7 linked regions of the Homo sapiens genome follow. The protein of the gene in region 2 purifies or fractionates together with the protein of the main gene of each other region. This does not show direct contact. Each region holds a gene or a part of one and is shown on either strand. Other genes may lie near its edges. The genes, in order: ANOS1, DDX42, PIN4, RPS6KA4, FOXJ3, PRP4K and NUSAP1.

Region 1 (3,500 bases), on a different chromosome or scaffold from region 2:
AGATATATATACAGATATATATATATACAGATATATATATACAGATATATATATATACAGATATATATATACAGATATATATATATACAGATATATATATACAGATATATATATATACAGATATATATATTTGATATACTGCATAAAGAAATAAACAAGTTAGTAAGTGTATTTTCTATTGTTTTTTAAATGTTCTATTACAGTCACAATAAGGTAGAGTTTTAAATCATGTTCAAAGAGAAATACCATATTAAAAACACAAAAAATTGCAATGAATAGTATAAGGTTTCTTTTGGGTCAAATTCAGAACGTGTTAGAAACGCAGCCAGAGAGCCAATAACTCAGACCAGGAAACACCAAGACCAAACTGCATCGAGTCGTGGTTCTCCCAGCGGCTCTCTAAATGCCTGGCCATCCTGCAATATAACTGAAAACTCAGCACAGAGCAAAGGGACACATCGTAGGCTGGGTATGAGCACCACAAAATCCATTCCTCTGAAATCTGTGAGCCTGGGGCTGATTTGTAGCTGCTGGGGTTTTGATGCGCTAATTGTTTGTTTACTTTGCCTTGGAGGAGAGGCTGGCCCTCTAAGTGGAATGATCTCATCACCAGCTTCATTCTCCTTTTTGCCAAAACAAACAGCTTCCAATTACTGCTAGGAAGAGCCTCTGATCTCTAATCAGCTACCAAAGGGAGCCTATCGGTGGTACTTTATAGGGCGAATAACGTCCCATTAAGGAAGAATCTCTTAACATCAGTACAATTCTGGAACCCTAGGGCCAAGCTGCCAGCAACCTGCTATTAGTCTTCCAGCAGGATCCCATCCACTTTCTCCCTGGGCATTCTGAAATCTGGCAAAGACACAGACACACATACACACACATCCCGCCTCACTTGCCCACGGACTACTACTTTTCCTCAAACCCTACTGTTTTGAGCCTCCATTGAGAAAACACAGGCAGACAAAGAGCAGGTCCCAGGCCTGCCAATGCTGAGATTGCCAATGGCAGGTCCCAAGCCTGCCCATGCTTAGGGAACTGATTATGTTTAGAGCTTAAGACTCAGCTACACCTGTGCCATCATGGGCAGACCCAGAGGAGGTCAGAGGAGCAGGAGTGTCCAAGATGAAGCATAGGGCATGAAGTCACTCTCAAATGCATCAAGAGTCACCTATAAAGAGACAGGGCTTATCTCAGGCACCACCTCCCTCCTTTCCTTCTTCTTTAATCTTCTAGAGAAGTTGAGAACATAAGAGGAGAGATGTTTCTCCCTAAGTGAGCATATGTCAGCATCGTACCCTTTAACATTACAGGTGACCCTATGAGGAACCGCCACTCCAAAGTAGGTTTAAACTTTCCCAGATGGCTGAATCTTTGACATACAAACAAAGCAAATTAGGTCAGTTTCACAGACGTATGAACAGTGCAGTCCACTATATGCTCACAAGAGGACCTAGGCTTGGGGTATGCTCTGCAATGGCCATGCTGAAATTCTTTGAGTTTGAGTTTTGTATGTAAGAGTCAATAGCACACTGCAGTACTCACTGGAGAGTGGACATGTCAGCTCAGAACCAATCCTGACTCCCACCGCACCCTCACCTCTCCAGGACAGGTTCTCACCGCCCATTCCCCCATCACCTGGCACCTCAGGCCCCACTGGCCTTCTGCTCCCCACCTCCCATCACATGATCCCTGCCCACTATGGTCCCTGCAGGGACCGGGCATGGGTGTAGGGAAGATCAGGGTTGGCCATATGCATGTCATACAGTGTCCCATGGTATGGTTGTGTCTGTCCCCATTCCATGCTAGTAGCATGATGGTGTGTTTGGTGGGTGGCCAGCACGATTCTGAGACACTGGAATGGCACATCCACTGAGGAGGATGCAATAAACCTGGGAGCTGCCCATCTGCTGGGGGCAGGAGCAGCTGGCCTATGAAGGGGAGGCACCTGGCTCAATTTCCAGAGGACCTGTGCCAGGCAAGAGTACAATCCCCGGGTGCAGCAGCAGGCAAAAGAGGGGACCTGGCCAGCATCATGCCTGAGCACATGTGTCTGAGCCCAAGGCCCTAGGTGCCTGTGAGACATGAGTGTTCCCTGGGCACACCCCAAAGCCTTGGGGGAGCCTTCTCTTCCTCCTTCCACCATTCCCGAGTCTGGCCTGTTGGACCCTCTGGCCATTTCAGGGCTCCCTCCAGGAATTAAGTGCTCTGATATTTACATGTAAAGCTGGCATTGCACAATATAAAGAAGAAGAGTTAGCGTCATGCTAAAATTAAACTTTAAAATTTTCTTCACTGAGAACAACATGGATAGGAAATTTAAAACACCATGACAAGTTAACAGAAGCAAGTGGCAGAAGAAAGGAAAACGTTTTATATCTTATTTCCTTTAACAAACACTTTTTTTCTTGCTAAGAGGCCCCACGTTTTTATTTTGCACCAGGGCCTGAAAATTAGGTAGTCAGTCCTGAAGTAAATTATCCAGCTAACCAACAAAATCTTAAAAATAGAAACAAAACCAAAAGCTAGAAGCCATCCTCACTATTAACCCGGCTAAATCGTCAATGAACTGTGTGATGAGCCAACTTTTCAAGACCTCTGAGTTCTTCCCTAATTTAGTAGCTGCCTCCTAGGAGTGTTGTGGGGATTAAAAGAGTAGTACTTGTAAAATACCCAGAAGAGTGGCTGCTCCTTAGTAATCTTCCGGGTAGTGCTAGCTGCTGTATTACCATCACCTGCATCACCCCAACATGTTTTGCATCCTGATTGCATCTTGCAGGGCAGGTGCTTCTCTCCCCCACTGGGCATATGAAGGGTTAACATTCAGGAAGGTGATGTGATGCACCCAAGCTACCCATTCGCGACGCTACAGAGCCTGGGTGTAGAGCAGGTCTGCACAGCCCCAAAGCCCACTTCCCTGTTCCATACCTCACAGACCCACAGCTCCTCTTCACTCTGCTAACCGCACATATGTATTCTACTTGTGAGCCTGAAATAGCTCCATGCCAAATGACCTGGACAAAGCATCCTGGAGCCAGATACTAATATTTCAGGAGGTGCTAACATGCACTGTTTCTTTTCGTGAATGAAGGGCAGCATTCAGTAGTGAAATGATGGGGTTTCCATCCCATCTTCCTTTCTTCCTTTCCAGGTCAGAGCAGTGTTGGATTACTCAGGTATCCCTGGTCTGCATTCCCACCCCCATGCCTCAGTACTGAGTCCCTTGTGTTTTTGGGCGTGGTTGACAGCCACTTTGTGCAGGTGGGGCAGAAACAGCCTGCAGACCTGGAGGTGTCAGGTGTGCACATCTACCCACTGCTTTTCTGTCTTGTTGCTGAAGGGCTGGGCAGTGGAGGACAGTGGGGACAACTGGGGCACAGACTATGAGACGACAGCTTCCTCTGCAGGCCGACGACAGCAGGTCACTGCCCCAGGGAATCTGTGTCACTGCCTACACCATGAGTGCATAGGTTGCGCTCTCCTGAGGCAAGGCCTGACAG
Region 2 (4,187 bases):
TTTCCCTCTTAGAAGTCTCCGCTGCACCTGTCAGTTCTCAAATGCACAAGTCCTTGCCAGACCACCCAGCCTCTATGACTCCTGAAGCAAGCAACACAGGACCAAGGAAAATTCACACAAGCGCTAACAAGTCTGGTTTGATTATTTTCTGCAAGCTCATCCAATAGTTCCTCAGCGACTGAGTCTAGACTTGAGGAAAGAGGACTGAGTGAGGCCATCATTCCTTGTTGTCATTTTAGATTAGGTCTTCCTGACAACGGCCAAAACGAGTATTCTGGAAATCATGCAGACTTTCCTCTGTCTCTTTATATGTGTTGGATACAAACACGTTTCATTTTAGAAACCTCCAGAAGAGACTGGCCACAGAGGTTTTTGCTTCTATTAAACCCCTTTGCCTAGTTTCTCCCCACCCAAGAGAATCAATACATCCTAATGTCATCCTCCGGCACACACTGTACATTTCCTCTAACTCTGCCCTTTTGGCTATCATTTGCTCACAGCTCCGTGGGAAAGTTCCCCCAAACCATTACAATTATCTCAACCGGACCGGGCTACAGGCCAAGCAACTCGGAGTCACCGCTCGGCCTGGCCCGGCCACGCCGACGAGCGCGTCCTGGCCCGCTCCTTACCTGTGGCCGAAGCCGAAACCCGGCCCAGCGCCCTGCGTCCGACACCCCTGCCCGGCCTGCCTCTCGGCCTGGCCGCCGCCTCCGCGATCGCAGCGGTTTTACTGCCCCGGATGCCTCTAGGACGCAGCCAGAACCGTAGCTCAGTCACGCCGCGCCTCTCTTCACGTAGCCTCCGCCGTCCGTTACGTAGAATGCGAGCGGCTCGTCAGCGCCTGCGCGCAGCCTGCGGGGCGGGACGCAACCCCGGGGAAAGCGCGAGACCTCCCTCTCTCCCGCCCGGCTGAGGCGAGGTGGGGCTTTTGGGAAAATTACATAATCCCCGCCCCTGGGCCGGAACTGCCCTCGCCTATCCCAATCCTCCTACCTAGGATTCCGTCAAGTTGACGTCACACGGAACCGGTGCTCCGGAAGCTAAAGGTGGCCATGCTGTGTGGGACCACGTGGCCAGAGGCAAGAGTGTCGCTCTAGTAGTATATGCAACAGTTTAAACTATAGGCATGTTCATGTAAATATGGTTTCTGTCCAACCCGTTTTCTCTTGGGATTTTTGGCTAGCCCCTTGACGCCACTTTTTCTTCATTCGCAGACCCACTTTCTAGATGGGTCATGAACACTGTCCACCCAACTGCAGTTTCCCGTCAGAGTATCTGAGGAGCCTGTGAGGCGTTCTGGAGCTTTAAGGTCAGGCGCCTTCCGGGAGCCGTAGCCCCGGCCCCGCCCTTCTGCCCGCGCGTTCCTCACTGCGCATGTCGCGTTTTTGTTCCCCTCCCCCCTTCAGCAACGGGCCGTGAGGCGGTGGCGGTGGTGGCGGTGGCGGCGGCGGTGGTGGTGGTGGCGGCGGCGGCGGCGAAGGGGGCGGAGAGGAAGGAGCGCGGCGGGACCGGGCCGGGACAGCGCGTACTTTGGGCTCCGGGATTCGCTCCGCGCCCGCGGTTGTAGCAGCTGCCGCTGCAGCCATAGCAGCAGGTTTGTGCGTGGGGTTTCTGGACGCAAGGCCGCCAGTCCTTGGGGGCACTGGAGGCAACTGCTGGGCCTAGCGAGGGCGGAGGAACCGCGGCCTCGCTTAACAAAGAGTCGGCAGAGCCTCGGGGCACCGGCGGCCGGGGTGCCGGGAAGGGGTGGGAGTGGGGGCTGAGGCCTCTAGGGTTCCTTCCTAGCCGCGTCGCCCTCCCACAGCTCCCGCTTCCCTCACAAGTCTTACCGAGGCCCAGTTGGCGGCTTTCCGGAGGCGGCGCCCCCTCGCCTAGGAAAAGGATTTGCAGGGTGCCCGGCTCCAGGGCAGGAATAGCGCGGGGAGAATTCTGACCCAAGGAGGCAGCGCTTGGGAGATGCAGGCCTCCGAATTTGGGGTCCTGAGAGGCAAAAGCTGCCAAATGAGAGGAGTGAAAAGATATAGGCGATGATCTTTGTGCAGCGTTGAGTAGGTCGATTATTAGCATCACTGTAGTCACACAAACTTTTTTGCGGCCTACTTGAGAGCGTATCTGATGTGAATAAATAATTTACATGGAATTGCAAACATATGCATCAAAAACAGGAGAAGCTGTCGAGAGTTTTGGGGAATTACATTCTCATCACTGAGAATTTCCCTCTTGCCCCCACTCCTATAGGCAGTTATCCAATTTCTTGTGGCTTCCCTGTGTTTTCTTTTTGTCAATGATGTTTCTATGTCTGTCCTCTCTCGTATACACACCCAGGACTTCCTCAAGCGCAGGGACTATGTCTTAAGGCGCTTTGCAGAGCCAAGCTCATTTCTGGCACATAAGAGGTGAGCAATGAGTGTTTCGTACAAAAATTAATGTTTATATTTTGACAGCTGGGAAAAGAAAATATATCTTCCTGTACCTGGAAGAAGCATTGTGTAGCCTAATGTGCAATTCGTTCATTCAAGGGGTATTTTTATTGGTGCCTATTCTCTAGCGCCGTTCTAGGTGATAGGGATAGGTGTTAGACCCCTGCCTTTGGGGAACTTAACTTTCTAGTAGCGGGAGGAGAGGCAAACAGATACATATATTATACTGAATGTTAGAAGATGATCAGTATCTTAGGGAAAAGAAAGCTGGAAAGGGGGTTGGGGAGGTGGTGGTGTTGGAATTTGCAATAAAGTGGTCAGGGAAGTCCATACAGACAAGCTGATATTTAAGCGGACTAGAAGGTGGAGTGAGAGCCTACGTTTATCTGGGGAAAGGAACGTTCCAAGCTAGAGAATAACAAACATAAAAGCCTTGAGGAGGACAAAGCTGGCCCGTTAAGAGTGTGAAGACCAACGCGTTTGGAGCACTGTGAGCTGAGGGAGTATTAGGAGATAAGGTCAGGGAAGAATTGGGGGAAGGGAGTGAGCGGAACAACCAAAGCCTTTTAGGCTGTTACTTAGGAAGGATCTGAGGGTTTCGATCAGAGGAATGATAATATCTGATTTATATTGTAACAATTTAATATAAGAGAGGAGTGCAGTTATTTAAATTTGTTTTGTTACATTGATAGTCATATAATCAGCTCTTAGTTGCTTTAAGCTGACAGGAGAAGGGATGCTTCTAAAATAACCATAACCTAGCATTTACTTGTATTTGGTTTAGAAGAATGTGATTACGTTCTTGAGTTTTTATTTAGATTCTCATCAAAGAACTGACCTGTATATAGTGTGTGAGGTACTCTCAAAGTATATGTAGAGTAGATGCTAATCACTGTCACTAGAACTCTTCCTTCCACCTCCAAAAATACAAGTGATAAAGTAATGTGGCTTATATAATCAGTTGTTTTTAGTCCACTATATTTAAAGTCATTTAGATCATATCTTATTTTCCGCCATTGCCGAAAACACAAACTAGCTAAATTGTCTTCCTTTATAAGTGTGTTCCACATTTATTCTCACTTCCTAGCCTTTGCTAGTTCAGTCTTTCTCCCTGGAATGTCTTCGTCTGCACGTCTCTACCCAGCTTTCATCTTTCTGTGCCTAGCCTGGCTTCTGACTCTGTTATGACACTTGCCCTTGCTTGTTAGCTCATGGTGATCTCTGACATCTTCAGTGTTCTTGTGGCGCTTATGTATGAAATACCTGAGTTGAAAGAAGTCTGATAGTCTCAATTTACCGATGAAGAAATTGGTTCTTCAGAAATAATGTAATAATGAAAAACACGATGGTAGCTGACATATTGAACAAGTACATTTTTGTGTATGAACTTAATTTTTCACGCCAACTCTTGAGATAGGTGATAGTCTCATCTTTTTTTTTTTTTTTTGAGATGGTGTCTGGCTGTGTTGCCCAGGCTGGTCTTGAACTCCTGAGCTCAAGTAATCCGCCTGCCTCAGCCTCCCAGAGTGCTGGGATTACAGGCGTGAGCCACCACACACAGCCTCTTACCATTTTTTATAGATGAGGAAACTGAACCCAGAGAAGCTAAATAACTTCCCTGAGGTTCATATCAAGTTAGTAGCAAAGATAGTTTACACATAGCCTGTGCTACTTTACTATTCTGTTAAGATTTCCTAGGAAACCACCGTGTTTTATTTATTTTTTAGAGACTGTCTTGCTGTGTTGCCCAGGTTGGAGTGCAGTGGT
Region 3 (4,039 bases), on a different chromosome or scaffold from region 2:
TGTGGGCACAAATTCAAAAATCATTTATCTTAGGCAAACATTATTAATATGAGCAAGCCATCATTTTATGTGCTTTACAGATATGAACTTGTTTAATTCTCTTAACACCTGATAGGATAATAGTAGGTACTATTATCATCAACTCCATTTCACAGATGATGAAACTGAGCCAAAGAGAGGTGAAGTAACTTCCTCAAGGTCATGGAGCTAGTAGACAGATGTGGAGCAGGGATTTGAAACTGGGCAATCTGGCTCCAGAATCCATGCTTTTACTACACTATGCTGCACCATTATGGAAATTTTGGAAAATACACAGAAACAAACACGATGACCTGTATGCACTAGCACCACTGGCCACATCTTGCTCTATAGCTTTCCTCTCCTTTATATTCATATAACATACAATACATTACATATACTTCTTTTACAAGGAATCATATTCTTTATCTTGGTCTTAAAAACATTTCCCCTATCTGTACACACAGCCTTACAATCGTTATTTTGAATGTTGTATAATATCTTCTTGTGTGGCTAAAACATTATTTAAGCAGTACCCGACTGAGGAGCACTCAGACTGCTTCCAATGTTTCTCCATGACTGAGCTCTGCAAGACGCAAAAAGGTGACAGGCTTTTTTAAAAACTACCTTTTGAACCTAATTAGCTACAACTGCAGAATAAAATTAACAAACGAAAAACTGCCAGGGAGGGCAGCCCTGTGTGTAGGAGGAGACAGCGGAAGTTGGCCGCCACCACAGTACTCCTGCTTCCCTTTGTCTGGCGGCCCCGCGGGATTGGCCAGAGCTGGCGCCGAGGGACTGCAGAGCCACCCACCCCCGTGGCTCCTACTGCGCACGCGTGAAAAAAGCCAGGTTGAGGGGAACGGGGGAGCTTCGGGCGTAGAGTGTGGGGAGTGGGGGATCTGGTGCAAATTAGGGTGCGTGAAAGAAGTCACAAAAAGCGCAGAGGCCAGGCTTCCCGCCCTAATCCGGCCTTTGTCTCCGCCCCTCTGCCTTTGTTTCGGCCCAAGCGTCTTATTGGTCAGACATCTTCAGCCCCATTGGTCCAAGAGCCAAAGGACGGGGTCTGCCCCAAGCTGTGCCTGCTTCCGGAGCCGCAATAAGAACGGTCAATTGAGATGCGGCTTTCAGGCATTTGTTTAGGACATGCCCATGGCGGGGCTTCTAAAGGGGCTTGTACGGCAACTGGAGCGGTTCAGCGTTCAACAACAAGCTTCCAAGATGCCGCCCAAAGGAAAAAGTGGTTCTGGAAAAGCGGGGAAAGGTAGAGCGGCCAGAGCGATCAAGGAGAATGGGGGCGGGTGAGGAGCGAAGGGAGGGAACAGACAGTCCATCTCCGGAGTCCGGGACGGACGCAGCAGGTAGCCAGTGGCCCCACAGTGCTGCCATCGATTACATCTGTAGGAATACATTGGGCTACGGTTCAGGGACCGTCCTAGTGGGTAATGGAATCTGATGGGGATAGTTCCTCGGAGGCGATGACTTAGGGCTGCTATTTCAAGGGGTTATTAGAGCTCTAAAATTGGGTCTTATCAAAAGCCAGCAATAGGAAGTACACATTGGTTATGGTCCTTAAAGTTCACTTTAATGCTTACAGAATGACATGCCCACCATCGGGGAAGGAATCATTCATCCATTGAACAGAAATGTGTCAGGCAGAGTGCTAAGCGCTGAGGATACACAAATAAGACAGAAGGCTGGGCGCGGTGGCTCACGCCTATAATCCCAGCACTTTGGGAGGCCGAGGGAGGATGGATCACGAGGTCAGGAGTTCGAGACCAGCTTGGCCAACATGGCGAAACCCCGTCTCTACTAAAAATACAAAAATTCGCCAGGCGTGGTGGTGGTGCGCGCCCGTAATCCCAGCTACTCGGGAGGCTGAGGCAGGAGAATCGCTTGAACTCGGGAGGCAGAGGTTGCAATGAACCGAGATCGCGCCACTGCACTCCAGCCTGGGCGACAGAGCGAGCCTCTGTCTCAAAAAAAAAAAAGAGATTTTGGCCTTAAGGAGCTCCCGAAGTAGTGAGGAAGATAAAGGCTTAGTGATCATAAAGCACTGTACTAAATGTAGTGTTGAGGGATGTGTATGGGATATAATAGAAATTGAGGGAAGTCCTTCATTTAGCTGGGGAACAGGGAACGGAAGACTTCCTGGAGATGAATTAGGCAGGTCAAGATGTGCATTGAGGGTAGGTTAAAGCATTCCTTACTTGGGGTCCAGCAGCAAAAGCACTGAGGTGAGAAACAGCATGATGTGTGCAGCGTAGTGTTGCTGGAGCAAAAACTCAAGGCAGAATGGCAAGTGGTGAGAATGAAAACAGAAACAAAGACGAGATCATGGAGAGTGCTATATATTCTGCTAAGAAGGACAGTTAAGGATCAGAAAGACCTGTAAGGAGATTGTTGTGGTAGTCTTGGTGAGAGATGATGGTGGACTGACCTAAGGGAGTGGCTGTGGGAACTGAGAAAAGAGAAAAGATTCTGTAAATATTAGGATGTGAAATAGTCAAGACTTGGTGATTTATTGGGTTGGGGAGGGGTGGTGAGGGAGGATCAACGATCATTCTGTTTTCTGGATTGGATTTCTAACCTGTTGCTGGTCCTGCAGGGTAACATCAAGGATACATGAGGAGCGGGGATGAGATTGATGAATTCACTTTCAGATAGATTGGCTTTGAGGTGTCTGTGGGACATCTCAGTGGAGATGTAGTCAGGAAGTGGTTGGATATTTGAGTCTAAAGTTTGAGGGAGAGGTCTAGACTGTACATGTAAGTTTTAGGAGTCGCTAACTTATAGATGGTAGTTGAGCCCATTAGAGTGTATGCAATTATCCATGGAGAGTTTATAGAATGAAAAGAGCAGAGAGCAGAGGATGTGATCCTAGGACAGGCAGAGAAAGAGGCAGACAGATAGAGGGAGTGCAGAATGGTGGCCAGAGGCTGGAGAGACCAGAATGTTTTAAAGAGAGAGGGTATAGTCTATCAAGAACAGCAGATTTGGAAATTAGAGGTGGCCTTGGGTAAAAGTGGTTTCAGTGAAACAGAAGCCAGATTACCGTGACTAGAGAACTGACTGGGAAGTGGTAATTTGGACTTCTTGGAAAGTTTTAATTGAAAAGCATGGAAATGGGATGGTAGATAGAGAAGGACAGAGGATTAAGAGAAAGTTTTATTTTCTTTGCTTCTTTGGAATGGGGAAAACTTGGGAGTGAAGCTGAAGGATCCAGTAAAGTAAAAGAGGTAAAGGTACAGAAGAGTGAGATTTAGGAGAAAATGGAATCCAGGACCTAGGGGGAGCAGGGACACCTTATGCTTGAGGTCATAGGAAAGGAGATGGAGGGGCAGGGACTCAGTAGGCATCTTGAGGAGAGTGGTAAAGGTCTGGAATATCGTAATGGAAGAGGGAATGAAACACAAAAGAAGTGCCTTCAGGGCTAGGAGCCTGACTAAGATCAAAGGCCATGAATTTGTAGACTACATAATCTTCACAGTCTGATTTACCTAGTACTATGCAATTGGCACAATATAGGATTGAAAAGAGCTAGGTGCAGCCTTAAGCCATGGTTGAGGTTTTGTTAGGCAGTTATGATAGGAGGATAGCAACACCAGGGAATTACAAGGGCCAGTGGGAATGCAGTTCAGATGAAGGAACATGGGGTCCAGAGTGGGAAGGGAAAAAGAAGTCTGGTGGCCTAGGTGAATGTAGCAGGACGAAGGGACTGGGGTCAAGGGAGAGGTTCTGTGAAGTTAAAGAGCAAGTATTGTGGGAATGAGACATGAGGAAGCTGGAAGAACAGGAGGTTATAGCCAGAGACTGAACTAGTTCTGAGTGGCACAGTTCCATCGTGTGCCCCCGGGGCAGGTAGCTTGGAGTAGAGAGCATGACATTCGGGAAAGAGACCTAGAACTGAGATTCCCCAAGATAGATGGTGAGGTCACTCAAGGTAATGGCAGGAGTGAGGGTGGAGAGGAAGCCCAAAGCTGATGCCAGAGTCGTCAGGAAATCAAAGGCAGTGAGGTGG
Region 4 (3,500 bases), on a different chromosome or scaffold from region 2:
TTCATGGTTTATCTTTAAACCTTCTGTTAATTTCCCTTCTATTCCATCATCTCTTTATTGTTATGTAAAAATATTGTTTGAAATTATTCACTTGCGGCTGGGTGTGGTGGCTCACACCTGTAATCCCAGCACTTTGGGAGGCTGAGGCAGGTGGATCACTTGAGGTCAGGAGTTCGAGACCAGCCTGGCCAACATGGGGAAACCCCGTCTCTACTAAAAATACAAAAATTAGCTGGATGTGGTGGTATGCGCCTGTAATCCCAGCTACTCGGGAGGCTGAGGTGAGAGAATCCCTTGAACCTGGGAGGCGGAGGTTGCGGTGAGCAGAGATCACACCATTGCATTCCAGGTTGGGCGACTGAGTGAAACTCCGTCTCAAAAAAAAAAAAAAAGAGATCTTCACTTTCTCACGTGGACACCTAGGAGGAGATGCATGTTGATATTGTGGCTTTGCATGCCCTTGGCATAGCATGGTACACTCCTGGAGGGTCAGGTCCCCTCCACCGAATTTTTTTTTTTTTTTTTTTTGAGACGGAGTCTCACTCTGTCTCCAGGCTGGAGTGCAGTGGCTAGATCTTGGCTCACTGAAATCTCTGCCTCACGGGTTCAAGCAATTCTCCTGCCTTAGCCTCCTGAGTAGTTGGGACTACAGGCGTGCGCCACCACACCCAGCTAATTTTTGTATTTTCAGTAGAGATGGGGTTTCACCATGTTGGCCTGGATGGTCTCAATCTCTTGACCTTGTGGTCCGCCCACCTCGGCCTCCCAAAGTGCTGGGATTAGAGGCATGAGCCACCATGCCAAGCCCCCTCTACTGAATTTTAGAAGCTTACACCTTTTGGACAAGTCCAAACTCCCTTTGCTTGGGCATTGAGGCCCTTCATGATGTGGTCCTTGCTTAGAACCTTAGCCTCAGTTCTCATCATTTTCCTACTTGATGCTCTGGAGGGCATGATCGAACTGCTCAGAGGTTCCAGAATATACCTCTGTGCCTTTGCACTTGCTGCTCCTGCTACCTGGAGTACATTCTCTACAGCAGTCTACATGGCAAGCTTCTACCCCTCTTTTAGGCCTCCTTGTCTGCTCACCTGGCCCAGGGGGTCACCCTTTCTTTGTGCTGCAGTCCTCTGTGGACAGCATCTCCTTCTGTGCAGTTTATCATGTTGCCATAATGATATTATATCATTATCACTAAATAAACCAGTATGGTTTGTTTAATAGACAGACCAAGTATGGCTGGATAAGTCCCTTCTCTGAAGCTCTTAGAATTGACAACTCTGTGCTTGAATGTCCACATTCCATTCCATTGTCTCACAGCCCTCATGATAAAGTTCTTTCTCTTGAATTGGTAGGTACTTTCATTCATTCATTTAATGATTCAAAAATGTGTAGTGAGTGCCTAAAATATTCCAGGTACGGATCTGGGTACTACATTTTTAGGAGAAGATGACACATAGTTTATTTTTAAAATTATTTTTTAAAATTAATTAATTAATGTTTTAGAGACAGGATCTTGTTCTGTGGCCCAGGCTGGAGTGCAGTTGGGCAACCATGGCTCACTGCAATCTTGAACTCCTGGGCTTGAGTGATCCTCCCACCTCAGCCTGCCCAATAGCTAGGACTACAGGCAAGTGCCACCACTCCCAGATAATTAATTTTTTTTTTTGAGACGCAGTTTCGCTCTTGTTGCCCAGGCTAGAGTGCAATGGCATGATATCGGCTCACCGCAACCTCTGCCTCCCGGGTTCAAGCGATTCTCGTGCCTCAGCCTCCCGAGTAGCTGGGATTACAGGCATGTGCCACCACGCCTGGCTAATTTTTGTATTATTAGTAGAGATGGGGTTTCTCCATGTTGGTCAGGCTGGTCTCAAACTCCTGACCTCAGGTGATCTACCTGCCTCAGCCTCCCAAAGTACTGGGATTACAGGCGCAAGCCACCGTGCCTGGCCACAACACGCAATTAAAATGACCCTTAAAAGCTCCTCAAATTGCCAGGACATGGATCTTTAGGAAAAGCAAAGAATTAACTCTGCCTTCTTTTTGCATTTCTTCAGTAGCTCCCCTTGCAGAAGAAGCCAAAGTCCGGCTTGAAAGGGAGGAATAAGTTTTTTTTCCTCAGCGGATAGAGTTGGATTCTCATAAGCTAAGCGTGAACTCAGGCCACACTTTCAATATATTCATTGGTCCTTTCAGTGCCTTCAGCCCTTGGCACCTGGGGAGGAATAAGTGGTCACTCTGATGAGAAAGTTGGGGTCACAGGCTGGTGGGGACAGACATGGCCCCAAGTGATTATAAAACCAGGTGGAATAAAAAGTGTCCACACATCCTGTGTGTACCAGAATGCAACTGGAACACCCCCCACTGCCCCCTTGTCCAGGGTCTTGCCTTTGCCTGGTTCCCCACCAGAGTCTCCTCACCCGCACCCCCAACCCCCATGCCCATGCCCATTCCCCGGACTCCCGCCCTGCAGGGATACTCCTTTGTGGCACCCTCCATTCTCTTTGACCACAACAACGCGGTGATGACCGATGGGCTGGAAGCGCCTGGTGCTGGAGACCGGCCAGGTCGGGCAGCGGTGGCCAGGAGCGCTATGATGCAGGTGGGCTGGGCTGGGCTGGGTTGGGGGGAAATTGGTTTTAGGAGAGGCCTAGGCCCGGGGACTCTAGGCCTAGATCCAACTGGCGCCCGCAGCGTGAGCTCAGCAAGGTCCTAAGCCTCTCCGACATGGGGCGTGGCGGGGCCGCGGGGCTACCAGGTGGGACCTCTGACGCGCCGCCTTCGCCTTCGCCTTCGCCTTCGCCTCCAGGACTCGCCCTTCTTCCAGCAGTACGAGCTGGACCTGCGGGAGCCTGCGCTGGGCCAGGGCAGCTTTTCTGTGTGTCGCCGCTGCCGCCAGCGCCAGAGCGGCCAGGAGTTCGCAGTCAAGATCCTCAGTCGCAGGTGGGAGGGCCCAGGCGCGGGCAGGGGTGGGGGTGGCAGAGCGCTGTCCCGGGGGCGGGGCCGAAGCGCGGCGACCGTAACTCCTTCTGCTCCGTCCCCCAGGCTGGAGGCGAACACGCAGCGCGAAGTGGCTGCCCTGCGCCTGTGCCAGTCACACCCCAACGTGGTGAATCTGCACGAGGTGCATCACGACCAGGTGATGGCTTCCGGCCAGGGGAGGGCGGAGAGAAAAGGGGCAGGCGGCGGGGCTTGGGGGCACTATGGGCGGGATCTAGGGGTGAATTGGGCGGGGCCTAGCGTTTGATTCGGGGCCCAAAGGGACCAGGGAGGCGCAGGGAGTGGAATTTGAGGGGAGTAGGGCCTGAGGACGGGAAGGCGGAGCTGAGGATGGACAAGAAAAGGGACTTTGGCCGGGCGCGATGGCTCACGCCTGTGATCCCAGCACTTTGGGAGGTCGAGGTGGGCGGATCACTTGAAGTCGGGAGTTCGAGACCAGCCTGGGAACATGGCGAAACCCCGTCTCTACGAAAAATACAAAAATTAGCCGGACGCGGTGGCGT
Region 5 (3,500 bases), on a different chromosome or scaffold from region 2:
ACTGACAATAAAGTAGAGAAGAATGAAAAGACTTCTAAGTGATATCAAAATAAAGGAAAAAAGGACAACAAAATAAAAAAAAACTTAAAGGTTTCTTTTGACTTAAAAGTCAAAAGAAAACATTTGTAGCTATGAAAATCCCATATAGCCCCTTCATTCCAAATGGCTCCTGACAAAAAGCAACCTTGAATATTATGTATAGGATCTGAACAACTTGGCGGCAACAGAGAATAATAAAGAACAGGGAGTTTGGGGTAAGGAAGACCCAGAGTCTAAGTACTGATTCTAACAGTTATAAGCTGTAGAACTGTGAAGATGTTAATTACCTCTACCTCCCAGTTTCCTCATCTGTAAAATGCAACAATAGTACTTATGGTCAAAATATTACTTTGAAAATTAAATGTATTAAAACATGCACAAAAAAATATTCAGTAAGTGCTAGTTAATAATATTAGTCTAGGAGTATCTTGGGAGGGCACCAATGCACTATAAAGTAAACCACATTAAGCAAAAGCAATTATAAATCAGAAGACAACCACGAGGATTCTACCTGCACTGCCAGTAAATTGAGTCCTCTTGATTTTCAGGTATGTTGATCCATAATTTTACCTTACTCATTTTCTCAAATTCCCTCCATCTCTATTGTACACATTCCTCTGAACCTGAACTTTAAATTCATCCATATAGCATCTTCAGAGATCTTAAAAAAAAAAAAAAAAAAAAAAAAAAAACTTACTATCCTACTCTACAATCTCAACCAGAAATGCCTGTTCCCAGCAAGAAGTTATAGGGACTTGTAGAATAAGAAGATAGGATAATTTAGAGATCACACAATGTCAAAACAGTAGAGAAAGTACCCTAGAGATCAGAGATGAATCCCTTCAGTAATGAAAAACTGCAGTTAAAGCTCATCCAATTTCACACAGGTAGTTAGCAGTAGTACAAAAACCAGAGCCCAGATCTCCTGATACCCAATCTGGTAGTTTTGCTAAACATACCTCATCTGTAAGATGAAAAAATTTAAATAGTTCCCACCTCACTGATGTAAAGTATTCAGAACAGTGCCAGGCAAGTAATAAGTATTCAACAAATGTTAACTACTCGTATTGGTAATAAGAGTAGTTGCTTATATTATTATTCACATTTCATTCAATAAAGATTGGCTATTTTATACCATGCTGTCATCCAATTTACCTCAATCAAGTCTCCATGGAGTAGAGCTTTATTTTGTTCAAATTCCCAAAGCAGCCAGTTACATGCATTTTCATACAAAAGCATATTACAAATTGGAATATAATTGTTATTGCAGGTGCTCCCTACTGAGAACCATCTTTGCCTTCTGCTCCCTTCCACCAGTGCCAGTAATGAGACTTTATAAGAATCTCAGTAATACAGGTATTTACTATGTGTTATATATTTAACAAGGATGCATAAATTATACATGTGTAAAGAGCTATGTTACAGTAAAAAATAAAATAAAATAAAAATACACACATACCTGTCCTCCAGGAACTTATAATCCAATAAAGAAGTTCAGACACAACAAAGAACTGAATAAAAGTACACAGCTGAGCTGTGGGTGCTATGAAGGTTCAGGAAAAGGAATAAACAACATGGACTAAAGCCTTGAGGGTAAAGAAGGAAGAACTTAGCAAGTCTTCAGCTAAGTGAAGATTGACTTAGCTGAAGAACTTCAGCTAAGTGAAGATTTAAATAGACTGGAAAGAAAAAGGACCCTAGTCTTCAAAGCCATCATGTGTAAAAATTATTCCACTGTGCTTATATTCATCAGTTCCACAAGAGCAAATTTTAAGTACACTATAAAAACATCTCAAATTTAAACTCTAAAAAAGTGGGGCTTCTGTTCTGTTTGCAATTTCTTAAATTTTATATACAGCATTCTTGGTAGTGAAGCAAAAAGTGTCCCCACTGTTGATACTTAGGCTGGTGGCTACTGTGGTTCTCCATCAAGCGTGGAGAGCACAAAAGATGACCATTAGGTTTGGCCAGATCACCAGTAACTTTAGACACAAACTCATTAGGGCGGGTGCGGTGGCTCATGCCTGTAATCCCAACACTTTGGGAGGCCGAGGCAGGCGGATCACCTGAGGTCTGGAGTTTGAGACCAGTCTGACCAACATGGTGAAACCCCGTCTCTACTAAAAATACAAAAATTAGCTGGATGTGGTGGCACATCCCTGTAATCCCAGCTACTTGGGAGGCTGAGGCAGGAGAATCACTTGAACCCAGGAGATGAAGGTTGCAGTGAGCCGAGGTTGCACCACTGCAATCCAGCCTGGGCAACAGAGCGAGACTCAGTCTCAAAAAAGGAGAAAAAAAAAAAAAAGAAACAAACAAACTTATTAGTGGAATGGTGATGACAGAAGTCCACTTGTATACGAGAACAGATGGTGGTAAATTTAAAAACAGCATGGGAGGCTGGGAGAAATCTGGTTATGGAAATCTGGTTAAGAAATGTCAGGCCCTCATTACCTCACCTCATTCCAAAAGCTTCCTAGCTGGCTTCCTGGACTCTGATGTCTCAACCACTCCTCCCTACTAATCATATCCAGTCCATGCATACACTCCAAGAGAAACCTATCAACACTGCTTTCATGTCATTATGCCTAAACACTTTCAATGGCTCCCTAACTCCTACTATACTACATCTAAATTCCTCATTTTCAACTACTTTAGCTTTTACTAATCTTTTATTAATCCTTCTCTAAATTCCTAGAGCAATTACAACCTCAGTTTGGCAACTGACATGTTGTTTCACATGCATAGTTGAATCATATGCTTAAGCTTTCTACCCTCACCTCCTCTCCCCCAACCACTGAGGACAGTGACCATACATTAGTACTTCTGATGCTATCCAATACCGTGCCAGGTACAAATTATCTGAAAAATAACATAGTAACTGGATAAGGAATAAGGGCCTTCTGTTCTGGAATGTCCTTTCCTTCTCTGTCTGCCTGGCTGGCTTCTACTTCAAGACCAAACATCTCCCGCTACAGAAAGCCTGGTCAATCCCCTCTTTCCATCCTCCATCTCCTAAGCTAAAGGAGCTATTATTCCTAAAGCAGAGTATAAATACACCTATCACAGAATTTATATGTAACTGTGATTATCTTTATCTACCTCTCCCCCAGGAGATTCTGATCTCCTTGAAAGAAGAAACTTTCATGACTGAAATAGTAACTATCCAATGAAGGTATGCGTGTGCTCCTCCCCAAACAAGTGAGACTGTAACAAGTTCAAAAGTTAAAGAGGTGAGAGTACTAAGTAGCAGAAAGTAAGGGTACTCATAGGTTTGAAGTCTTTCGTAAGACAGAAAAAAGTATGACTCAGAGCACAGACTGACAGGCAGCTTTATACAGGAAAAGAAACCATTCTACCAGAATAACAAAGAAAAATGAGAATATGGGAGTAAGATGAAAAGCATATACTGTTACCTGTGGGAGAAAGCAAAGCACAGAGAAGAATTTGTCTGCAGTTCT
Region 6 (3,500 bases), on a different chromosome or scaffold from region 2:
CTTAAAAAGTACAGGTTAGAGAAAAAGGGAAAAGCAAACCAGGCACAGCAAAACCTCATTAACATTGATTTAGTACAAGAAGCCACTCAGTAACTTAATTTTTAAACCAACATTTCTCACACATTAACAACCAAAGGGCCCGTTTTCTTTTTTAATAAGACCTACTAACTATTAACATACACTGGAAGACTAATCTCCTTCTCCACTTGAAATTCATGAAACTTGGTGTCTCTACAGTAAACCCAGCAGGTCACTTGTTTTGAGCAGATTTCATCTTATACCTTAAAAACAAAGCAAAACAAAACAAAACTCTAGAGCCAATACTGAGCTATACCCAAAATAAGCACTCAATCAATGTGCATTGGTAGCTGATACTGATGATGGTGATAGTATAAACACATCCTCACAAGTTGAATCTTCAAAGTGAACTAAACCGGAAGTTAGGACTCTAGGCTTGTAGTAAGCAATCATACGACATTAGGCTGAACCACATGGAAGGGCCTTTTGTAAGTCAACAAGTCTAATATCAGTAATTTAATACAGTACAGCCCAATATTCATTCAGCAAGTGATTTAATCTCTCTGAATTTCAAATGAGAACTCAGTTTCCCAAAATACATTTACATTAACAGATGCTATGGAAATAAATAAATAAAGTGGGGGATTCTGTGCTTAAATGTTTGGCTTATGCTGAGTTAAAAAGTTTATGATTCTAAATTACGTTGTCGAGCCCTTGGTGTTTAAGAATCCCAAGTTAAATACTGGTTCAAAAGCACTATTTAACTTTCTCTTTAAAAGTTACTCCATAATAAACCATCATCCTAGAATATCAGACCAAAAGTGGCCTTAAATTATCTAGATTCAGGCCATCATACTATTTTTGGAGGAAGCTATGGATTATTTTGTCAGGTCTTCATATTATATACTCCTATACTTTTAGTAAGTTTATCCTTGCAACCTAAGAATTCATCTGTCTACTCACAATCTCTTTAACATTTAAAAAAAACTCACCAACCATGGGTAAGCATTAAGCCACGCGGCAGGAAAACAGATGTACAAGCCAGGCATGGTGGCTCACGTCTGTAATCCCAGCACTTTGGGAGGCCAAGGTGGGCAGATCACCTGAGGTCAGGAGTTCAAGACCAGCCTGACTAACATGGGGAAACCCCCTCTCTACTAAAAATACAAAAATTAGCCAGATGTAGCGGCACATGCCTATAATCCCAGTTACTCGGGAGGCTGAGGCAGGAGAATCTCTTGAACCTGGGAGGCGGAGGCTGCAGTGAGCCAAGATTGCGCCATTGCACTCCAGCCTGGGTGACACAGTGTGACGCAGTCTCAAAACCAAAAAAAAAAAAAAAAGAAAGAAAACAGATTACAAAACCAGTATCTGCCTCCTTCAAAGAAATTAATGTCTGGTGGAAAACTAAGTCACATGACATAACCATAAAATACTGGAGAAGTGCAATGATGAAGACACAAATAGGGGCATTATGGGAACACTGAAGGATCACCTAAACTAATTTCGAGAACGGTCAGGGACACTGTTTTGTAGATCACAGAAAGAAACCAATTTGTTAAGCAGGGATGTTAGGAGGAAAGAAGAAACGTTTACTGAGAAAGGACAGGGATTAAAAAATAAAGGTTGGCCCAGGCACAATGGCTCACATCTGTAATCCCAGCACCATGGAAGGCCAAGGCAGGAGGATCACTTGAACCCAGGAGTTCGAGACAAGCCTGGGCAACAGAGTGAGACCTCATCTTTATTAAAAATAAAAAAATTAGCTAGGTGAGACCTCATCTTTACTAAAAATAAAAAAAATTAGCTATTCAGGAGGCTGAGGTGGAAGGATTACTTGAGCCTGGGAGGTCAAGGCTGCAATGAGCCATGATGGGGCCACTGCACTCCAGCCTGGGTGACAGAGCAAGACCCTGTCTTTAAAAAAAAAAAAAAAAAAAAATTGAGTAACACCGCCCTAGAGAATGAGTAAGGAATTAACAAGAAGGGAAAAAGGGGCATTTCAAATAGAGAAAGAAGGTGACAAAAGGCAGTTATATATAGCAAACTTCAAGTCGATCAGTGTTGTGAAAGACACTGAGGTAAAGATTCCAAGTGGAGCCAGGCATGGTGGTGCACACCTGTAGTCCCAGCTACTCAGGAGGCTGAGGTGGAAGATCACTTGAGCCCAGGAGTTTGCAGCTGCAATGACCTATGATCACACCACTGCACTCCAGCCTGGGCAACAGAGAGAATCCTCCATCTCATTAAAAAAAAAAAAAAAAAAAAAGATTCCAAGTAGACCAATTCCAGGAGATAACAAGATAATATATGGTTCTAGGAGTGGGTAGTTGAGAGAGAATTAAAGGTTCACTGGAGTCACAGAGGCCCAGGAACTGCAAAAGTACGTTGTCTAGCCAGGTCTCATAGTCTTGAATAAACTTGCTGGGAGAAGGGGTGGGGGAGAGAGAATGGCGGTATGACTGAGAAGTTACTAATTAGTTGACAACAATGAGGGGGAGTGAAAAACACATAGCCACTACAGGGTACCATACTCAAAGAACTTTGATTTTTGGATGTCACATTGCCAACTTCCATTTCTGGCAGGAAAAGGTATTTAAGAGATGTGCAGAAGAAGCTACGTCCTCTGGTGAAAGTCAGGTTTTAATTTGGGTTGACTTCTCCCTAATGGAGTATGAGAAGACACATGACAAATACAGTAGTGTTCTCTGGATCATTAATTTTTCTCAAAGACTTGGAAAAAGTGCAGTATCTTGGTATTATAAAAACACCACCAGGCCATGTGCAGTGGTTCACACTTGTAAGCCCACACTTTGGGAGGCTGAAGTGGGAGGATTCCTTGAGCCCAGGAGTTCAAGGCCAGCCTGGGGACCATGGTGAGATCCTATCTCTACAAAAAAATTTAAATTAACTGGGTATGGCAGCATGTGCTTGTAGTCCCAGTTACTCAAAAGGCTGAGGTAGGATCACTTGAACCCAGGAGGGGATCACTTGAGCCCAGGAGTTAAAGGCTGCAGTGAGTCATGATCATGCACTGCACTCCAGCCTGGGCAACAAAGGAAGACCCTATCTCAAACACACACAAAAAACAAAACACCATCATTGTTTTATTATGGAAGGGAAAGAAGTCACATAGATTTCAGTAAAAAGATTCCAAGACATTTCAACTTTGTTCTTTATATAGGCTATATTCTCATCCTTTGTCCCCAGAAATCTCCCATCCCATAATCCAGAAGGTCTTTTTTTTCCTGAACCTTGACTTATAGGGGGAAAAGTCTGAGAAAAATTTAGGCTAATTCAAGTTATGAAGGTAGGAGAGTCTTTAAAGATTGAGAATGATCTTTAGGCGTATAAAATCTAAGTGCCCAAAGTACAAAATTCTAGTCACTAAGCTCAAATTCAAAATTACCTAAAGTTTTGAGTTTTAACTCAAGACTGTCCTCAAGACAAAGGACAGCTGAGTGGTTAAGCAGTCTCTGGAG
Region 7 (3,500 bases), on a different chromosome or scaffold from region 2:
CACTGCATGCCAGCCTGGGTAATAGAGCCAGAACCTGTCTCAAGAAAAAACACTACCAATTAACTATTGACATCTTATGAATTGTAAAAACACATCCCAATTTCAGAGATGTTAAAATGTAGAAAAAATACTATCAGTCAATCAATCAAATACATTTGTGGCAATTTGCCATATGTAAAGAATGGTAAAGAATGGGCTTATTTCTCTACCACACAAATGAATGACATTCTTTTAGGAACATACAAGACCTGTTCTCACCACTCACCTAGCATAGCAGTCTTCTGCTACCTGTGACTTCCCCTAACCTGGAGGAGGAGGAGGAGGAGGAGGAAGGGGAGCTTTTGGCTTGCCTCTTGGACTATAATGAGGCCTCCACACCTATTCCTCCATCACCATCATTGTCCAAGGCAGGGAGAGCAGAAAAGACAAGAACATATTTTACAAATAATGTTAGTTGATATGTGATTTAATTTAGCATTAGCCTTTTAGGAATATGTCTCTTCTGCAAAAGAGGTTCGTTCCTATGACAATTATTAATTGAGGCCCTTTTCACTGCTTGCTAATAGTCAAGTGGTTTTATTTATAAGCTAGACACAAGTTACTCTTGCCACAGTACTCATGTCTTGTACTCTGCTGTCCTATTTAGGTTTTCAGCTGCTACTAAAGATAATGAGCATAAGCGTTCACTGACCAAGACTCCAGCCAGAAAGTCTGCACATGTGACCGTGTCTGGGGGCACCCCAAAAGGCGAGGCTGTGCTTGGGACACACAAATTAAAGACCATCACGGGGAATTCTGCTGCTGGTAAAAAAAAAAAAAAACAAAAGAAATCTGTTTCATTTTTAAGCCATGTAACTTCCCAAAATGATTAGGTATATCTGTTTTTTTTGTTTGTTTGTTTTTTTCTGAGATGGAGTTTCGCTTTTGTCACCCAGGCTAGAGTGTAATGGCGGGATCTCGGCTCACTGCAACCTCTGCCTCCCAGGTTCAAGCAATTCTCCTGCCTCAGCCTCCTGAGTAGCTGGGACTACAGACACATGCCACCATGCCCGGCTAATTTTGTATTTTTAATAGAGACAGTTTCACCATGTTGGTCAGGCTGGTCTCAAACTCCTGACCTCAGGTGATCCGCCCGCCTCGGCCTACCAAAGTGCTGGGATTACAAGCGTGAGCCACTGCGCCCGGCCTGTATCTGTTTCCTTAAACCCTTTCCATTTCTATAATCAAAAGCAAAAATTTTACCATAGTGTATTTTTAATTGTGTACTAGTGGGGGAAATGCCAGAGACATAAGCAAAAACCAGATATCTGCCTGAGAGCTCCATCTAATCCTAAAATGGTGACCCTCCAGGAAGGGCACTGTGCCCCTTGTGGGACTCAGGGATTCGGAGGATGAGCACAGTATTCGTTGCAGCCTCGGAAAGGTCCTGGAGGACTCTGACACTAACAGGATCCCAGACCACAGACTTCATGTTTCAAGATTCAACCATGTTGACTCGTTTTCACAGTATTTTTCAGTGGTGTGGGTATATGTCAGTTTATCTATTTTACTATTCACGAACATGTGGGTGGTTCCAGCTTCCATTATTATATATGATGTTGCTATGAATACTCTTAAACATGTCTCCTGTACATGTGCAAGAGTTTCCCTAGACCTAGGAGCAGGACAGCTGGATTGGAAAATATGCAGACATTTACTGTCCTGAATGAATTGTACCAATCTGTGCTTCCAGTGGCAGTGTATGGCAGTCCCTTGTTCTACTCCCTGTCAGCATTTGATACTGATACAGTGGGATAGCTTGAACACAGGGTTTTGTGCTTTTTTTTAACTAAGTGGTCTTAGATCCTGATTGCTGTTTCACAGATGTAGGCAAGGGTTCACATTTGGCAATGACCTGTGGCTTCCCCCTATGAAAAGAAAGGATTGGCCGGACGCAGTGGCTCTTGCCTGTAATCCCAGCACTTAGGGAGGCCGAGGTGGGTGGATCACTTGAGGTCAGAATTTCAAGACCAGCCTGGCCAACATGGTGAAACCCCAACTCTACTAAAAATACAAAAATTAGCCGGGCATGGTGGCATGCACCTATCATCCCAACTACTCAAGAGGCTGAGGTAGGAGAATCGCTTGAACCAGGAAGCAGAGGTTGCAGTGAGCCGAGATTGTGCCACTGCACTCCAGCCAGCCTGGGCAACACAGTGAAACCCTGTCTCAAAAAAAAAAAGAGATTGGGAGAGAAAGGATTAACTGATGGCCAACTGTAGCAAAAAGGCTAACTAAACTACACCATCCTTAGGCTGGGCATGGTGGCATGGAGACCAACCTGGCCAACATGGCAAAACCTCGTCTCTACTAAAAATACGAAAATTAGCCGGGCGTGGTGGCACGCGCCTGTAATCCCAGCTACTCACTTGAGAATCACTTGAACCCAGGAGGCAGAGGTTGCACTGAGCTGAGATCACATCACTGTACTCCAGCCTGGGAGACAGAGCAAGACTCCGTCTCAAAAAAATTAAAAAAAACTACACCATCCTGGATATTTTTAACTTCGTGGTGCAAAAATTCATATTCTTTTTTTTTTTTTTTTTTTGAGACGGAGTCTCACTCTATCACCCAGGCTGGAGTGCAGTGGCACCATCTTGGCTCACTGCAACCTCCGCCTCCTGGGTTCACGCCATTCTCCTGCCTCAGCCTCCCGAGTAGCTGGGACTACAAGTGCCCGCCACCACGCCCGGCTAATTTTTGTATTTTTGGTAGAGACAGGGTGTCACCGTATTGGCCAGGTTGGTCTTGAACTCCTGACCTCGTGATCCGCTCACCTCGGCCTGCCAAAGTGCTGGGATTACAGGCATGAGCCACCGCGCCCAGCCAAAAATTAATATTCTGAAGTGATAAGAGCCCTTATTAATAATATTCCTGACTTTAAACAATCCTCCTGCCTCAGCCTCCCAAAGTGCTGAGATTACAGGTGTGAGCCATATCTGTTATCAGGGAAATAAGCTGAAAAGTTACCGTCATTTCCTTCAACAGAATTCTAAACTCCCAGCTGATCCTAGGATCCCAGCACTTTGGGAGGCCAAGGCAGGTGGATCATGAGTTCAGGAGATTGAGACCATCCTGGCTAACACACTGAAACCCCGTCTCTACTAAAAATACAAAAACAAAATATTCAGAACATTTACAAAGCTGCTTAGCAAAGGAAATTAATCTCAATGGTTAGCTTTCCTCAATTATTGTTTTCCCCTTTTCTCCATTTTAACCCTTATTTCAGACTTTCATCTATTTCAGACTATTCATGTAGATTGTCTTAGTCCTTTGCGGCTGCTATTATATAACAAAGCACCAAAGACTGTATCTTATAAACAGCGGTAATTTCTTTCTCATAGTTCTGGAGGCTGGATGAGGGCAGATCAGGGCACTAGCATGATTCTGGTGAGGGCTGTTTTCCAGGTAGCAGACTACCAACTTCTTGTTGTATGCTCATGTGGCAGAAAGAGAGCTAG

The links.
Region 1: the proteins of DDX42 (region 2) and ANOS1 fractionate together in Homo sapiens (co-fractionation; one large-scale study listed by BioGRID). This does not show direct contact.
Region 3: the proteins of DDX42 (region 2) and PIN4 fractionate together in Homo sapiens (co-fractionation; one large-scale study listed by BioGRID). This does not show direct contact.
Region 4: the proteins of DDX42 (region 2) and RPS6KA4 fractionate together in Homo sapiens (co-fractionation; one large-scale study listed by BioGRID). This does not show direct contact.
Region 5: the proteins of DDX42 (region 2) and FOXJ3 fractionate together in Homo sapiens (co-fractionation; one large-scale study listed by BioGRID). This does not show direct contact.
Region 6: the proteins of DDX42 (region 2) and PRP4K purify together in Homo sapiens (affinity purification with mass spectrometry, with the first as the bait; one large-scale study listed by BioGRID). This does not show direct contact.
Region 7: the proteins of DDX42 (region 2) and NUSAP1 purify together in Homo sapiens (affinity purification with mass spectrometry, with the first as the bait; one large-scale study listed by BioGRID). This does not show direct contact.

The regions. Positions count from the first base shown.
Region 1 is NC_000023.11:8,725,638-8,729,137, forward strand, and holds part of ANOS1 (anosmin-1 isoform 1 precursor), read right to left. Parts: intron 1-3,500. UniProt on the Homo sapiens protein: Has a dual branch-promoting and guidance activity, which may play an important role in the patterning of mitral and tufted cell collaterals to the olfactory cortex. Chemoattractant for fetal olfactory epithelial cells.
Region 2 is NC_000017.11:63,772,783-63,776,969, forward strand, and holds the start of DDX42 (ATP-dependent RNA helicase DDX42), read left to right. Parts: upstream 1-1,387; 5' UTR 1,388-1,594; intron 1,595-2,325; exon of another isoform or gene 2,326-2,396; intron 2,397-4,187. UniProt on the Homo sapiens protein: ATP-dependent RNA helicase that binds to partially double-stranded RNAs (dsRNAs) in order to unwind RNA secondary structures. Unwinding is promoted in the presence of single-strand binding proteins.
Region 3 is NC_000023.11:72,180,547-72,184,585, forward strand, and holds the start of PIN4 (peptidyl-prolyl cis-trans isomerase NIMA-interacting 4), read left to right. Parts: upstream 1-1,239; coding exon 1,240-1,282; intron 1,283-4,039.
Region 4 is NC_000011.10:64,365,662-64,369,161, forward strand, and holds part of RPS6KA4 (ribosomal protein S6 kinase alpha-4), read left to right. Parts: intron 1-2,470; coding exon 2,471-2,599; intron 2,600-2,806; coding exon 2,807-2,940; exon of another isoform or gene 2,941-3,042; coding exon 3,043-3,136; intron 3,137-3,500. UniProt on the Homo sapiens protein: Serine/threonine-protein kinase that is required for the mitogen or stress-induced phosphorylation of the transcription factors CREB1 and ATF1 and for the regulation of the transcription factor RELA, and that contributes to gene activation by histone phosphorylation and functions in the regulation of inflammatory genes.
Region 5 is NC_000001.11:42,279,736-42,283,235, forward strand, and holds part of FOXJ3 (forkhead box protein J3), read right to left. Parts: intron 703-3,500; exon of another isoform or gene 619-702; coding exon of another isoform or gene 551-618; intron 1-550.
Region 6 is NC_000006.12:4,027,800-4,031,299, reverse strand, and holds part of PRP4K (serine/threonine-protein kinase PRP4 homolog), read right to left. Parts: intron 1-3,500. UniProt on the Homo sapiens protein: Serine/threonine kinase involved in spliceosomal assembly as well as mitosis and signaling regulation. Connects chromatin mediated regulation of transcription and pre-mRNA splicing.
Region 7 is NC_000015.10:41,370,881-41,374,380, forward strand, and holds part of NUSAP1 (nucleolar and spindle-associated protein 1), read left to right. Parts: intron 1-646; coding exon 647-804; intron 805-3,500. UniProt on the Homo sapiens protein: Microtubule-associated protein with the capacity to bundle and stabilize microtubules. May associate with chromosomes and promote the organization of mitotic spindle microtubules around them.